4 linked regions of the Homo sapiens genome follow. The protein of the gene in region 3 interacts with the protein of the main gene of each other region in a pairwise test. Each region holds a gene or a part of one and is shown on either strand. Other genes may lie near its edges.

The links.
Region 1: the proteins of NUDT5 (region 3) and NUDT3 interact in a two-hybrid assay, tested with the Homo sapiens proteins (one large-scale study listed by BioGRID and IntAct).
Region 2: the proteins of NUDT5 (region 3) and MAPK6 interact in a two-hybrid assay, tested with the Homo sapiens proteins (one large-scale study listed by BioGRID and IntAct).
Region 4: the proteins of NUDT5 (region 3) and MCM3AP interact in a two-hybrid assay, tested with the Homo sapiens proteins (one large-scale study listed by BioGRID and IntAct).

What each region holds. Positions count from the first base shown.
Region 1 is NC_000006.12:34,284,670-34,288,169, forward strand, and holds part of NUDT3 (diphosphoinositol polyphosphate phosphohydrolase 1), read right to left. Parts: 3' UTR 1-3,500. UniProt on the Homo sapiens protein: Cleaves a beta-phosphate from the diphosphate groups in PP-InsP5 (diphosphoinositol pentakisphosphate) and [PP]2-InsP4 (bisdiphosphoinositol tetrakisphosphate), suggesting that it may play a role in signal transduction.
Region 2 is NC_000015.10:52,060,323-52,064,781, forward strand, and holds part of MAPK6 (mitogen-activated protein kinase 6), read left to right. Parts: intron 1-976; coding exon 977-1,178; intron 1,179-3,579; coding exon 3,580-4,459. UniProt on the Homo sapiens protein: Atypical MAPK protein. Phosphorylates microtubule-associated protein 2 (MAP2) and MAPKAPK5.
Region 3 is NC_000010.11:12,185,892-12,190,350, reverse strand, and holds part of NUDT5 (ADP-sugar pyrophosphatase), read left to right. Parts: intron 1-4,018; 5' UTR 4,019-4,059; coding exon 4,060-4,122; intron 4,123-4,459. UniProt on the Homo sapiens protein: Enzyme that can either act as an ADP-sugar pyrophosphatase in absence of diphosphate or catalyze the synthesis of ATP in presence of diphosphate.
Region 4 is NC_000021.9:46,267,707-46,272,165, forward strand, and holds part of MCM3AP (germinal-center associated nuclear protein), read right to left. Parts: intron 2,858-4,459; coding exon 2,695-2,857; intron 1-2,694.

The sequences.
Region 1 (3,500 bases), on a different chromosome or scaffold from region 3:
CTGGTTAAGAAGGTTTAGCAGGAGCCTCCAATGAGCACTGTATGTAGAGAAAAGGGAAGGAGCAGGAGGAGGAACAGATCTGCACAGAATTTTTTTCTTAAAAACCACAAAGGGTGACTTTTTTCTTCTAAGCAAGCAAGCCTGAGAGGCATTACATGGGCTGGCTCCTAATATCAAAACAAAATATTTCTTTGCCACAAAGGAACTTGACTATGTAGCAACACATTTACAAAACTACTGCAAAACACTCCCAGAGGGCAGTGACCTACTCTGCTCCCCAGAGGCTCCAAGAAGCAAGGCCTCAAGTGCCTCATGTTCCATGGGGCTGTGCAGTGCAATGCAGAAGGCGGAAATCCTGCTGTGACGCCACCCTCGAGACCTTCTGCAGCCTGAGAGGGGGTGATACTCCCACACCCTTTGATCCTTCCAGATGGCTCAGCCTAGATCTAGCAGTGAGAGAGCCCTCTCCATGCAGGGCAGATGGAGTGGTGGACACTTGTGAAAACAAAACACTAACTGTTCCATCCTGTTATATTTGCTGTGAGGAAAATTAAGATTCCTGTTGTATGGGCTGCACTGTTTCTGGAAGACTACAGAAAATCTAACATGGTTGACACTTCCTGGTAGCCCTTCTGTACATACACACACACACACCCAGAGAGAAGACAGAGAGAAAATCCTGGTCCAAAAGATCACATGACCTTACTAGTGTTTCCCCAATGACTGTAATTTATAAACTAAAAATTTTTACAAATCCACTGCTATCTTCTTCTGTCCTGAGTTTGGTAGACTTTAATGGATGCTCCAGCAATAACCAGAATCTAGGACATGCAGACTCACTGTGAGCGAGAGGCTAGGGATCTGCCCTAAACATAGGAACCTGTTTCTATCAAGCCTGAATGAGGTCAGCTCTGGTAGAATTAATGACAAATCAATGTCAGTGAAATATTCTGCAAACAGGGTAGCTTTTGTGCTTTCTTTTGATTATTTTCTTTGGGGAGATAAAGGTATTGCAACCATGGGTCTAACTAATCTATCACTAAAGGACTGTGACGACATTCTCAATAAAGACAGTCATGGTGTTTACTGTGCCAAGGAGGGAAAATCCCAGATCATCAGAATCCCAGTGCAACAGAAAACAGCACCAGTTTCAACAATTCTGATGTTGGACAAAGCCTCTTTTTGTCAGTTAAGAAAGCGTAAGCACAATCTCTCAGTCAATTGCATTAACAGGAATCCATTCATGTCACTGAAAAATACTTCTTGGCACAGTTCACTTTCCTGACCCAAAGACACCAACAACAATCAAAACTGCACTTTCAGGGTAGTATATTGTTACACTAGCCCAGTCAAAACATACTCAGAACATTTAAAAATGTATAAATTACTGTTAGCACTGCAGTTCCGTTTTATTTTCTTATTTATTTATTAAGACAGAGTCTTACTCTGTTGCCCAGGCTGGAGTGCAGTGGCATGATCTTGGCTTACTGCAACCTCTGCCTCCCAGGTTTAAGCAATTCTCATGCTTCAGCCTACCAAGTAGCTGGGATTACAGGAGTGCACCATCATGCCCAGCTAATTTTTGTATTTTAGTAGAGATGGGGTTTTGCCATGTTGGTCAGGCTGGTCTCAAACTCCTGGCCTCAAGTGACCCACCTGCCTTGGCCTCCCAAAGTGCTGGGATTACAGGTGTGAGCCACTACACCCAGCCCTGCAGTCCCTTTTTAAAGAGTACTGACTGTTTTCCTGCAAAGTACTTTCAAATCCATACCATAAAGGTAGAATTTATCTGGAAGAATGTGTTTTTTGAATTCCACCTGGCACTTGGTTAAATCTACTTTATTTTGCCCTTTATTTATTTGAACAGAACTTTAGAATGCTCTAGGTCAGGAAAAGAAACAGTGTGTTCGTTTTTAAGAAGGATGTGTGAATAGTAAGTTGGCATTCAGACTCAAGTCCCATGGTATTGTTCTTATCCAATGGGACCTCTCCTTGGGAATATAATTCCTTTCCCAGAGGTATCATGGTATCCCAAGAATATAACTGCTCTTTGGCTCTGTGTGTGAAGATTGGGGGAGAGGATGTAAACTAAGAGTATATAGCAAAAAAAAAAAAAAAAATTTTTTTTTTTTTTTTTTGAGATGGAGTTTCACTCTTATCACCCAGGCTGGACGACAGTGGTGCAATCTCGGCTCACTGCAACCTCTGCCTCCCAGGTTCAAGCGATTATCTCGCCTCAGCCTCCCAAGTAGCTGGGATTACAGGCGCCCACCTAATTTCTGCATTTTTAGTAGAGACGGGGTTTCACCATGTTGGTCAGGCTGGTCTCAAACTCCTGACCTCAGGTGATCCACCTGCCTCAGCCTCCCAAAGTGCTGGGATTACAGGTGTGAGCCACCGTGCCCAGTGAGTAGACAGCAAAATTTAAAGTTCACCAACTGATGTTCCCAAAAGTGCTGAACACTAAATGACACAGGGCTATGAGGTACATACATTTCTTTTAGTAGGAGGGAAAAGTAAAAGCTTTTCAAAGTTTGAGTGCTTTATTAGAATTTTTAAATGAGGCGAACTATGATTTTAATTTCACATCTTGGCTAAGGAGATGCCACTGGAGTACAGAGATAATCTCCTGTCTTAAGCCACGGATCAGTCAGTGTAGCCCTCCCTACCCCTCAATCTCAAGACCCTCTTACTTCCGAACTAAACAACACAATTGGCAAATGAAGCCAGCACGAAACTGTATCAAAAAACAAGAGAGTCTGCAGTGAGCCAGTGTATTATGTAACCACTGTAATAAGTGATTACGTGGCCTCCCATATGGACCTTTCATATCCTGGTGGGAGATGGGAGACCAATTTAATAGCTCTGAGCATGCTCCATGGTGCAATCACAAGTGCCATGCCAATACAAAGACAAGCAAGCAGGTGAATTTCCCTAGTGTACTTTTCAGGAACACGGTTACTCAGTTCAGGGACAGGACTACATTGATGCACCTGCAAAGTAAAGTTGGATGCTTCAGAGCACATGGATGATACCCAGGTCAGCACGGTGTAAGGCATATATGGACACAAAGAGAGGCCATTGTTGGCAATAAATAGCATTACGGAAAAGATTCCAAACCAGCAGAACAGAAATGGACCTGATGCTCCAGTTTTTTAGATAAGTAATCCCAAGAATCCAGTTCCAACTCTACTGTCAACATGTGGGGCAGAATTCAATTTCTATCATTGTTTTTACAGATCTGGGCTGAGGCCATTTGCTCCTTGCTTGGTTAAAAAAAAATAAAAAAATAAAAAAAGGTTTCTTCCTGTTTCTTTCTGGGCAGGGAAATACAGCTTAAAGAAGGAAAGGCCATGAGTCCTGGGAGCACTATGAAGGTAGCTAAACTCTTCCCATATCTACAGTCAATGACTGGGAAATAGAGAAAGGACAGGGCAACCTGCCCAGCCACTAGCATCGAAAACAAAAAGGTATGTTAATTGTGAGGCTCTCAATTCTAG
Region 2 (4,459 bases), on a different chromosome or scaffold from region 3:
GAAGGCAAGGATAAGAGGATGTGTGAGTGACCATAGTGAAGAGGTAGGGATTGAGACAAATGTGAAGTGGGTTTATCTGTTGAGAATGATAAAGAAGACCGAGAGCATAAAGAGAAGGCCAGATAGCAAAGGTCACAATGAAATTGTTTAGTATGAATTTGTAATGAGCCAGATATGGGATATTGCAGCTAGTTTTCATCAGTTTTGTGTGGCCAGGGAGCAGAGAGAGTAGATGGTGGTGGTGATCCAGGGTTGAAGGTTGATATCATAAGGCATAGAAGTGTGTGGCTGGTGTAAATATAGCTTTCAGGCTGCGTGAGGAACTAAGGAAGGCCTACTAGACTATTTTATGGGAAGAACTGGATTTGTGGTTAACCAGAGTCCTAAGATGTGCAAGGTCAGTGTGTGAACTATGCTGGAGTGTGATGTGAAGCAGAGATCAAGAAATTAGTACAACAGAGATGTTTTACTGTTGTACTTCCCATCAGTGAAGGATGGGAAAGGGCTTTTATTACATACCAGACACTATGATTACATCTCATTTTTGTACCTTATGAAATATCTATGTCTACTTTATGCATGAAGAAACTGATGTTCATCAAGTTTTAGTAGCCTATCCAGCACTACAGTGCTAGTAATTGAGTTAAGCCAGTGACTTGCAGAGCTAGGATTAAAACCTATATATTAGGCCGGGATTACAGGCGTGAGCCACCACACTCAGCCAGAAAATCGTTTTTAAGTTGTAAATCAGGTAAGTTTTATTTCTGACAAATTAACTTTTTAATTGTGTAGTCCATTTTTCCCTTTTATAAGATGGGGACCTATTAGTACAATTAAGATGCTCATTTCCTGTTGTGTAGTATGTAGTGCTAAGGTAATCACTTAGCTAGTCATTGAAATAAATGAGATCAACATTTACTGTTTTTCTAAAGGTAAGCAATTCTTTTCTGAAAAACTTTTACCTTTTCCTCTGCAGCACTGGATTTCCTGGAACAAATTTTGACATTTAGCCCCATGGATCGGTTAACAGCAGAAGAAGCACTCTCCCATCCTTACATGAGCATATATTCTTTTCCAATGGATGAGCCAATTTCAAGCCATCCTTTTCATATTGAAGATGAAGTTGATGATATTTTGCTTATGGATGAAACTCACAGTCACATTTATAACTGGGAAAGGTAAATTGATCCTAAATTAGAAAAATAATATTTACTGAACTTTCAGTGGACCATATGTAGTGAGTTTTTTTAAAATTATGTATAAGACATTGTAGAAGTCTTAAAAATTTAGTAATGTAAAGATACAAAAATTAGTCAGGTGTGGTGGCAGGCGCCTGTAGTCCTAGCTACTTGGAGGCTGAGGCAGGAAAATCACTTGAACCCAAGTGGCCGAGGCTGCCGAGATTATGCCACTGCATTCCAGTCTGGGCAATAGAGCAAGACTCCATCTCAAAGAAAAATTTAGTAATGGTCCTTAATATTTATATCTATAAATAGCCGTTAATTAAAACATTTAATAAAGTAATTACTGGTTAGATGATATATGGGAAAAGTTAAATGCTACTTTGAAACATTTTCAAAGTCATTAAGGCATATTTATAAAGTCCTTTAACTGTGATTTTATGAATGTCAAAAATTTAAGATGTTAGATGACAAGACTCAGTCATATCCAATAAAGTATCTCCAGTGTCTCAGTGGTAGTTATATCTTAACATAAAAAGTATTTGATTCATATTAGATGCAGGATTTTTTTTTTTTTTTTTTGAGATGGAATCTCACTCTGTCACCCAGGCTAGAGTGCAGGCTGGAGTGCAGTGATGCAAGCTCAGCTCACTGTCCTGCCTCAGCCTCCCGAGTAGCTGGGATTACAGGTACCCAGCTAATTTTTAGTAGAGGTGGGATTTTATGTTGGCCAGGCTGGTCTCGAACTCCTGACCTCAGGTGATCTGCCTGCCTTGGCCTCCCACAGTGCTGAAATTATAGGCGTGAACCACCGTACTCAGCCAGTATTTGAATCTGTTTTCCTAATGACACAATTAATTTGGGGACACTTAACATAGGTTCAGTAAAAGAGACTTTTTTAGGTCTAAACATTAGTGTATAATGTTATCCATATTTTGATGTTTCATAAAGTGAAATAATTGGATTTCTAGGAAAGTTTGGCTGGGCGCGGTGGCTCATGCCTGTAATCCCAGCACTTTGCGAGGCTGAGGCAGGCCAATTACCTGTGGTCAGGAGTTCGAGACCAGCCTGGCTAACGTGGTGAAACCCGGTCTCTACTAAAAATACAAACATAAGCCAGGCTTGATGGCGGGCTCTTGTAGTCCCAGCTACTCAGGAGGCTGAGGCAGGAGAATCACTTGAACCTGGGAGGCAGCAGTTGCAGTGAGCCGAGATTGCACCACTGCACTCCAGCCTGGGCGACAGAGCAAGACTCCGTTTCAAATAAATAAATAAATACATTTCTGGGGAAGTTTAGATATAATTCTGCTTCAGAGTAGGATGGTAGCTTATAGAGTCATCAGGTGATTTTGATGCTTCAGAGTAGGATGGTAGCTTATAGAGTCATCAGGTGATTTTGATGTATGGCCAAGTTTGGGAACCACTAATGCCAATCTTTTTAATCTTAAGATTTTAAGAAGAAATTTTTTTCCCCCTCCTCAAATGTTGATGTATTGGTATGGTATGTTTACACAAATCTGCAAACTACTTTTTTTCTCCATGTGTCCATTTCTACCCCCTAAATAATGGTTCTTTTCTTTTTTGAGACGGAGTCTCACTCTGTTGCCAGGCTGGAGTGCAATGGTGCCCATCTCTCTGCTCACTGCAACCTCCTGAGTTCAAGCAGTTCTCCTGCCTCAGCCTCCCTACTAGCTGGGACTATAGGCACCCGCCACCATGTTCAGCTAATTTTTGTATTTTTAGTAGTGGGGGTTTCACCATGTTGGCCAGGCTGGTTTCAAACTCCTGACCTCAAGTGATCCATCCACCTTGGCCTTCTTGAAGTGCTAGCATTGCAGGCCTGAGCCACTGCACCTGACCTGCATTTTCTATTTTACCTAGCTAAGTTATCTAATCTCTTTTCTTTTCCCTCAATGATTATACATGTCAGTAATAGGATAGCGCATTCAGCAGCACGTATACACAGGGAGATTTTTGCTATTCATGGTGATGAGTTTTCCAGCAAACCTCCTCCTCTTCTAGTTGCCCTTACTGTAGAGTAAACATTTAGCAAACCTCCTCCTCTTCTAGTTGCCCTTACTGTAGAGTAAACATTTGTAAGGTACCTGATTGAGATTTGAGATCTGCATTTTGTGGCTATGAAGTCTTTTGTTTGCATGGAACTGGTGGACAAAAAACAAATTGGAAATGAAGTTACATACTGCATTGGCAATTACCAAATATATTAACAGAGCTTTCCTATCAAGACTAAGTTCTGGTAGGGCAAGGCAGGCATATTTACTCTCCTATAATTATCCCCTCATAGACCTAGCACAGTGCTGTCACATAGAAGGTACTCGGTGAATTTGAAAATGAAATCATATACGTAGAATAACGCTAGTGTATTGATTTTTTTCAGGTATCATGATTGTCAGTTTTCAGAGCATGATTGGCCTGTACATAACAACTTTGATATTGATGAAGTTCAGCTTGATCCAAGAGCTCTGTCCGATGTCACTGATGAAGAAGAAGTACAAGTTGATCCCCGAAAATATTTGGATGGAGATCGGGAAAAGTATCTGGAGGATCCTGCTTTTGATACCAATTACTCTACTGAGCCTTGTTGGCAATACTCAGATCATCATGAAAACAAATATTGTGATCTGGAGTGTAGCCATACTTGTAACTACAAAACGAGGTCATCATCATATTTAGATAACTTAGTTTGGAGAGAGAGTGAAGTTAACCATTACTATGAACCCAAGCTTATTATAGATCTTTCCAATTGGAAAGAACAAAGCAAAGAAAAATCTGATAAGAAAGGCAAATCAAAATGTGAAAGGAATGGATTGGTTAAAGCCCAGATAGCGCTAGAGGAAGCATCACAGCAACTGGCTGGAAAAGAAAGGGAAAAGAATCAGGGATTTGATTTTGATTCCTTTATTGCAGGAACTATTCAGCTTAGTTCCCAGCATGAGCCTACTGATGTTGTTGATAAATTAAATGACTTGAATAGCTCAGTGTCCCAACTAGAATTGAAAAGTTTGATATCAAAGTCAGTAAGCCAAGAAAAACAGGAAAAAGGAATGGCAAATCTGGCTCAATTAGAAGCCTTGTACCAGTCTTCTTGGGACAGCCAGTTTGTGAGTGGTGGGGAGGACTGTTTTTTCATAAATCAGTTTTGTGAGGTAAGGAAGGATGAACAAGTTGAGAAGGAAAACACTTACACTAGTTACTTGGACAAGTTCTTTAGCAGGAAAGAAGATACTGAAATGCTAGAAACTGAGCCAGTAGAGGAT
Region 3 (4,459 bases):
TTTCCCCTCACTAGTGTTTTTTTTATGCTCTGGAGAATTACACATCCAACACATCCTAGACCTTCAGTGTTCAAACTGAACTGAGTTAAAACGATTTATGAGAATTAAAACAGCTTGTGACTTTAAAGACTAAGGAAAATCATAAATGAAATTGTAGAACACTCGCTGGCGCGGTGACTCACGCCTGTAATTCCAGCACTTTGGCAGGCCGAGGCGGGTGGATCACGAGGTCAGGAGATCGAGACCATCCTAACACGGTGAAACCCCGTCTCTCCTAAAAATACAAAAAATTAATCAGGCATGGTGGCAGGTACCTGTAATCCCAGCTACTTGGGAGGCTGAGGCAGGAGAATGGCATGAACCCAGGAGGCGGAGCTTGCAGTGAGCGGAGATCGCGCCACTGCACTCCAGCCTGGGCGACAAGGCAAGACTCTGTCTCAAAAAAAAAAAAAAAAATTGTAGAACACTCAACATCGTGTACATGTATCTTTTTCATACCATACACATATTGGCAATATGCAAATTACCTTAAATTCTAACTAATGAAGTGGATAAAATTTATATCAAAGTTTGCTTTTAAATCTTGAAATAGCGTTGAGTCAGTGAAGGCAAACTCCGTTGCAGTGGCGGAGACGCTGGCTTACAAAGCACGGAATTTAAAGCTCATTTCTCGTTCTTTCTGCAGCGTGTTGCTGGCAGTGACTGGCCCCCGAATGGCACTATTTGGCTTCTGCTTTTGAAATGGTGCTAAAAACAACATTCCTTTTCTGTTTCTAAAAATTTCTGAGGTACTTTTACAGTCCTTCTGAAATGTTTGGGAATCTCATAGTTAAGAATATGCTCTTGAAATAGCTCATTTTTGTCATTCACGGAATCAGTGGATTGCTGCACGATACTGTTTCCCTTTGAGGCTGATTGCATTCCAAAGAAATACTCTCTTTTAGCGGCCAGGCACGGTGGTTCACGCCTGTAATCCCAGCACTTTGGGAGGCTGAGGCTGGTGGATCACCTGAGGTCAGGAGTTCGAGGCCAGCCTGCCCAACATGGCAAAACCCCATCTCTACTAAAAATGTAAAAATTAGCCGGGTGCAGTGGTAGGAGCCTGTAATCCCAGGTACTCGGGAGGCTGAGGCAGGAGAATCGCTTGAATCCGTGAGGCAGAGGTTGCAGTGAGCCGAGATCATGCCTTTGCACTCCAGCCGGGCAACAAGAGCGAAACTCCATCTCAAAAAAAAAAGTTTACCTAATAAATTATCATCTATGGTACTTTCAAAGGAATAAGTGCCTGTTTTCTTAGTAGGGCTGCAGGTTTCAATATGCTAATGTCTGTCTCTAAATATTTAAACTTCTACGTGGTTTACTTCCTTATTGCTTTCAGGTCTCCATTCAGAAGTCACCAAATTAAACAGGCCTTGCCTGATCACTCCGTGTAGATTACTCTTCCCATCTTCCCCACACTTCTCATCCTTTTTAATCTTTCTTCATGAAACGCTGAGTCACTTGACATAAATTTTGTGTTCTTCCTCACTGTTTTTCCTTTCTCCTCACTGGAAAATGAGGTCCGGGGGAGTGAGGGTCTTTGTCCCTCTCACCACCACTTTTTTTTTTTTTTTTTTTTTTTTAGATGGAGTCTTGCTCTGTCGCCAGGCTGCAGTGCAGTGGCACGATCTCAGCTCACTGCAACCTCCATCTCCTGGGTTCAAGCCATTCTCCTCCCTCAGCCTTCCCTGTAGTTGGGGCTACAGGCGCACCCCACCACGTCCAGCTAATTTTTGTATTTTTAGTAGAGACAGGGTTTCACCATGTTGGCCAGGATGGTCTCCATCTCTTGACCTCGTGATCCACCCGCCCTGGCCTCCCAAAGTGCTGGGATTGTAGGCGTGAGGCGTGAGCCACCGCACCCGGCCTCACCGCCACTTTCCTAAAACATCATCTCACCTTTCACAGGTTGGCCACAAGGGTTACCTATGATAGTCAATCAGATATTTGATTTGTAAACGCACTTTATGAATATTCATACAGTTGGTTTTGTTATTGATTGTATTTTAGAATAGGGAAGCTTGCTGTCTTGGGGACAAATTGAAGATCAGATGGGTAGTATGATCACTTTGGGTCCCAGAAGAAACAAAGAGCAGACTCACTTTTTCCTTTAGGACAGTTGGGAAGAGAGTTGATGCTGGGTGGGCTGTATTTTCTTTGAAGCCGAAGTTAGGTGGGGTAGGTTAGAGAACCGTGGAACGTAAGAGTGCAGTGGCGTGATCTCGGCTCTCTGCAACCCCCAACTCCTGGGTCCAAATGACCCTCCTGCCTCAGCTTCCTGAGTAGCTGGGACTACAGGTGCCCACCACCACACCCGGCTAATTTTTTTATTTTTTATTTTTGTGGAGACAGGGTTTTGCCATGTTACCCAGGCTGGTCTCAGACTCTTGGTCCCCCAAAGGGCTAGGATTCCAGGTGTGAGCCACTGTGCCTGGTCCAAGTAACAGTTCTTAAAAGAAACAACAGAGAAAACACAGGGGAGGAAATCATCAGTGAAGTCGTTCAAGAAAAAAATTCCCTGTAAAGAAGCATAGTAAGAAGTTTCCAGATTGAAAGGACCCACTTGACTTCCCAGTACAATAACATCGACATGAAAGTGACTAACTACAAGCTTCCAGAGGAGGAAGACAGGTCACATGGCAAAAAGATCAAGAATAAGAATAGCTTTGGACTTCTCAACAGCAGCACCAGAAGTAAGACAACTAAGCAATGCCTTACAGTTTCATAGACAACTGGCTTTGGGTCTATAATTCTATATACAGCTGAATTAACAACCATGTGTGTGGGTAAGAAAAAAAGACTTTGACCTTCGGACAGGCAAGGTCCGAAAATGAAGGAATAAAGAAAGAGGAAATAATAATATACAATAAATGGGATAAGGGCCTGCTCTTTTCATAACAGAACTTGTAGTACTACTCGATCCTTTCTCTGCAACTATGACTTTGATACATGCTGAAACTTAAAAGTAAGTGGGGAGGTGGGTCCAGTGGCTCATGCCTGTAATCCCAGCACTTTGGGACACCGAGGCGGGAGGAGGATCGCTTGAGCCCGGGAGTCTGAGACCAGCCTGTGAAACATAGTGAGACCCCACCTCTACCAAAAGTTTAAAACATTAGTTGGCTGTGGTAGCATGCACCTGTAATCCCAGCTACTCAGGAGGCTGAGATGCGAGGAGCACGTGAGCTTGGGAGGTAGAGGCTACAGTGAGCCATGATTTCGCCACTGCACTCCAACCTGTGCAACAGAGTGAGATCTTACATCTCAAAAAATAAGTAAGTTTAGGTGTAACAGATGGATAAAAGACTGAGAGGTGGGCATGGAGAGTGGTAAATCTTTCTTCTGTCTTCCCTTGGAAAGAGTTTAAGATTCGGAGTCAGAAAAATCAGGCTGGGCGCGGTAGCTCACGCCTGTAATCCCAGCACTTTGGGAGGCCAAGGAGGGCAGATCACTTGATGTCAGGAGGTTGAGAGCAGCATGGCCAACGTGGTGAAACCCTGTCTCTACTAAAAATATAAAAATTACCAGGCCTGGTGATGTATGCCTGTAATCCCAGCTACTCGGGAGGCTGAGGCACGAGGATCACTTGAACCCAGGAGGCGGAGGTTGCAGTGAGCTGAGATCGCGCCATTGCACTCCACCCTGGGCAACAGAGTGAGACTCTCTCAAAAAAAACAAAAAAGAAAAAAAAAAAAAGAAAAATCTGATGAAGAAGGGTGGCCTCTAAGTGCCTAGAACAGGCATGGCAGGAGCTTGGCTGTTGTGGCTGAGGGTGACTAGGACTGCTGTCACTTCCTTCCTGGCTAATCCCCGGGCCTCCCTGTTCACATTTCCACCTGCGGCAGTTCCCTCACATACTGAGACAGGCAGCGTTGATGGTAGATGAATTTTTTGCCGTTTAAGTACTTTGACTAGTGTCCTGTGGACGAATGTTTAATTCAGAAAAATAATTTTAGCCTGAACAAATCTCATTATCTTGCAGGGTGAACTTCTCACCTGAGGGCTGTAAAGACTCGTTTGAAAATGGAGAGCCAAGAACCAACGGAATCTTCTCAGAATGGCAAACAGTATATCATTTCAGAGGAGGTATAACTTGTTTTTCACTTTCCCTTCCCTCCCCCACATAAATCTGAGTTTAGCAGAAATATATAGACTGTTGTTACAATGGTGGTCTTTCATTCTTGAAGACAGTTGTAAAGATTTTTCCTACTCCCTTTTTTGGGCTCGGGCACATTTTGCTCTTGTGTGGGAGGAGTAGTGTGTCTCTCTGTGTATTAGTGAAATTGAGACTCTAGGAGATTTGGGCTCTTAACAGAAAAATTCTTAATCCTTCCTGTATTTCCCTAGATAGAAGAAGAAAGAATATATGCATTTGCGGACTCAGATATTTCATATGTAGTTGTCACAACTTGGCTGTTGATGG
Region 4 (4,459 bases), on a different chromosome or scaffold from region 3:
ATAGCTACATCCTATTCTCTATAAAAAAAAATTTGTTTTAATTAGTGGGGCTTGGTGGCATGCACCTGTGGTCCCAGCAACATGGGAGGCTAAAGTGGGAGGACTGCTTGAGCCCAAGAGGTTGAGGCTGCAGTAAGCCTTGATCACACCACTGCACTCCAGCCTAGGTGACAGAGTGAGAACCAGTGTCTTAAAAAAAAGACAATGGGGCTGGGTGTGGTGGCTCACGCCTGTAATCCCAGCACTTTGGGAGGCCAAGGCAGGCGGGTCACTTGAAGCCAGGAGTTTGAGACCAGCCTGGCCAACATGGTGAAACCCCATCTCTACTAAAAATACAAAAATTAGCTGGGTGTGGTGGCACGCACCTGTAATACCAGCTACTAGGGAGGCTGAGGCAGGAGAATCACTTCAACCCGGGAGGTGGAGGTTTCAGTGAGCCGAGATCATGCCACTGCACTCCAGCCTGGGTGACAAAGTGAGACTCCATCTCAAAAAAATAAATAAATAAAAATAAAAGTAAAAATAGACAAAGGAAAAACATGAAAATCCGAACAAAAATTCTGCTTGAGTGCTGGGACTTTGGTACCTAAGCTGTTAGTCCTCTTCCGATGTTCTTTAATTCAACCAACACTGATCAAGCATTTGCTCTGTGCCTGGCACCGTTTTTAATGCTGAGAGTACAACAGTGAACAAAAACACAATCCCTGTCCCCACATAGCTGACATGCCAGGGGAGAGACCAATGCCACAGAAAACAAACACATCAAACACACAGAATGGTGATTTAGTGCGGCAGATGGGCAGGGAGAGCAGGGAGCGCTGGTGGGGGCCCTGCTGAGGGCGGCAGCCAAGCCTCGCCTGGCCTCAGGGAGGTGGAGACAGCGCCGTGCGGCTCTGCGAGTGTGGAACAGCAGTGGAAACAGCAAGCACAAAGCCTCTGAGCAGGAGTGCACAGGGCTGCGGGGACAGGAGGCTGCCTCTGTGCGCCACTGCCGGTGAAGAGCTTTTCTAAAGAAAAATACCCGAATATCTCTTTTGTTTAAAGTTATTAAAAACGGCCAGGCAAGGTGGTTCATGCCTGTAATCCCAGCACTTTGGGAGGCCGAGGTGGGTGGATCACCTGAGGCTAGGAGTTCGAGATCAGCCTGGCCAGCATGGCGAAATCCCATCTCTACTAAGTTAGCTGGGCGTGGTGGCGGGCTCCTGTAGTCCCAGCTACTGGGGAGGGAGGCTCAGGCAGGAGAATCACTTGAACCCAGGAGGCAGAAGTTGCGGTGAGCAGAGATCATGCCACTGCACTCCAGCCTGGGCAACAGAGCGAGACTCCATCTCTAAATAAATAAATAAATAAAGTTATTAAAAATGGTCAACATTCTACTAACGCTCAATCATCGTGTATACAACATTAACTATGTTTTATTTTTGTTTATTTTTTTTGAGAGGGCCTCTGTTGCCCAGGCTGGAGAGTGCAGATCTTGGCTCACTGCAGCCTCAACTTCCTGGGCTCAAGCGATCCTCCCACCTCAGCCTCCTGAGTAGCTGGGACTACAGGAGCATCCCACCACACCTGCCTGGCTTTTTTTTTATTTTTAGTAGAGACAGGGCCTCCCTATGTTGCCCAGGCTGGCCTTGAACTCCTGAGCTCAAGCAATTTTCCCACCTCCCAAGTTTGCCAAGGTGCCAGGATAACAGGTGTGAGCCAAAGCACCCAGCCAATATTAACTACAAGTGGCAAGTTGTGGAAAACCTTTTCATTTACTCCAGAATATCAGTTCTGTTTGGCAACCTGCAGATCTGACAAGGAGCAAACCTGCAAAAGACCTTCTGACTGTGACATGACTGTGGGTTTAGTCACTGTTTACAGGAGGCCCTGATGTGTGACCAAAGAAATGACCTGGAGCCACAGATCAACCAAGGCAGGTCCCAGGATCTCCCAGGCAGCATCCTCCCCACGCTGTGGCCACTACGGGCTTGTGGCAAGGAATCCTGGCAGCCTCCTTGGAGCCGCTGCCAGAATGGGCAGCAGAGTGTGTGCGAGGTGAGGTGGCGCTCTGTGCGGTGGGCCGCGGTCCTGGTCACATTGCACTGAACGGAATCATGCAGGGCCTAGAACAGCAGGTGCTACAGGGGCTGCTCTGTCCTCATCCCCAAGTTCCGTGGAAGTGGAACAAAATAACCGACTGGAAACCCCAAGACACAGTTTACTCTGCGCAAACCCCAGGGGAGGGACTGGCCTTCCCATTGCCTCTGCAACCCTAGCACACGGCAAAGCACAGACACTGAGGCACCCACTGAAAGGAACTTAGCGCCATCAGCCTCACTCCAGAAACTTCGATTTAAAACATGAAGCATTTCAAAGTCAGAGATTTTGTGCATATGATATGAGATTTTTGCTTTTTAGTTAGCTTTCATGGATGATGATAGTGCTGAATTCAACCTATGTTTTCCCAAAGAGATTTTTCTTATTTGAACCATGGAACAGTATTTTCCATTGCACAGCCTTTCCGGATGGTGACCAACAGTGATAACCCCTATAAAACAGGGCAACACCGGTAACCCCTTCGTGGGGCTGCTGCAAGGGTGACACAGCATCAGCCTGAGACCTCCTTTGAAAAGCTTGGAATAAGAAAGCACCCAAACAGCACAAGAACCACCTGCTTTCTTCCAACTCTGCAAGCACAGCTCATTTACTCACCTGACTGAAGTAACAGTGTAAAAGACAAGCGTTCAGGTAAGAAGCTGACTGGACCAGTTTGAAAAATCTCACAAAATTATTACTGTTCAATGCAGCAAAAGCCTGAACAGCAAATTTCACCTCAGATGAGTTTCTAACAGCAGGATGGAACTGTTGTACTTCTCTGTTAATTAAAGGAGAGAAAAGGGGTTGGAATGTTATTTTAAATAAGACAAAATTTTCATGAAGATAGATCTGATAAATAATAGATTTCACTGGCCAGATGCAGTGGCTCACACCTGTAATCCCAAAACGTGGGGAGGCCAAGGTGGGAGGATCGTTTGAGCCCAGGAGGTTGAGGCTGCAGTGAGCTGTGATCGCATCACTGTACTCCAGCCTGGGTGACAGAGCAAGACCCTGTCTCAAGTAATAATGATACTGGATTTCAACCATACTGAGAAGGAGGGTCTTACTGGTGAAATGTGCCGTTAAATTCATAGTTTACTAACTACCACGCTTGGATTGGTTTGACAAAGGTTTCCTTCAAAACAATAATGAATAGAATAAACAAATTCAAAAAGCAATTTAGGAATCAGTTATCAAAAAGTTACTTTAAAGTAATGCCAATGGACTGTCAGCTGTGCTGGATGGTAAAGTCTAAAAAACAGAAAACTTAACTCTTTTTGTTTAGAAATGAATTGATTTTGACTGAATTATTCGTGATGGAGAACAAATGCTTGTCACGTAGAAAAAGACAATACAGCAATCTTTCATAACCAGTTTAATTTTTTTTTTTTTTGAGACAGAGTACTTGCTCTATCACCCAGGCTGGAGTGCACTGGCACAATCACAGTTCATTGCAGCTTCAACCTCCTGGCCTCAAGCAACCCTCTCATCTCGGCCTCCCAAAGTGCTGTGATAACAGGCCATGGGCCACCACACCTGGGTTTTTTTTTTTTTTTTTTAAGAGATAGGGTCTTGCTTTGTCACCCAGACTGGAGGACAGTGGCATGATCACAGCTTACTGCAGCCTTGACCTCCTGGGCTCAAGGGATCCTCCCACCTCAGCCTCCCCAGTCGCTGGAACTACAGGCACACATCACCACACCTGGTTAATTTTATTTATTTATTCATTTTTGTGGAAGGGTCTCACCATGTTGCCCAGGCTATACAAGGCTTAATTTTAAAATTTAAAATCAGCCGGGCATGGAGACTCTAACTGTAATCCCAGCACTTTGGGAGGCCGAGGCAGGTGGATCACCTGAGGTCAGGAGTTCCGGACAAGCCTGGCCAACATGGTGAAACCCTGTCTCTACTAAAAATACAAAAAAATGAGGCGGGCATGGTGGTATGTGCCTGTAATCCCAGCTACTCAGGAGACTGAGGCAAGAGAATCGCTTGAACCCAGGAGGTGGAGGTTGCAGTGAGCCAAGATCGCACTACTGTACTCCGGCCTGGGCAACAGAGCAGGACTCGGTCTCAAAAATAAAATGAAATAAAAAATTAAAATCAACCACACATCTAGATATTCTGTCACACAGTTCTTGAGGAAAATACAAAGAAAAAAAAAAGAGGTTCACCATTGATAGGGGATTCTTAGAACTAAAGGGGACACTGTCCACCATAAGTCCAGCTTAACCACAAGCAGAGGGTCCACCACAAGCAGAGGGCCAGAGAGCTCGCCAGACTTCGCATGTAAGTGACTAATTATGGATCAGACCAGGGTTTTACATTCATTCATTCTCACTACCCCATTCTTCGCATTTTTGTTTTACATAATTTTTTC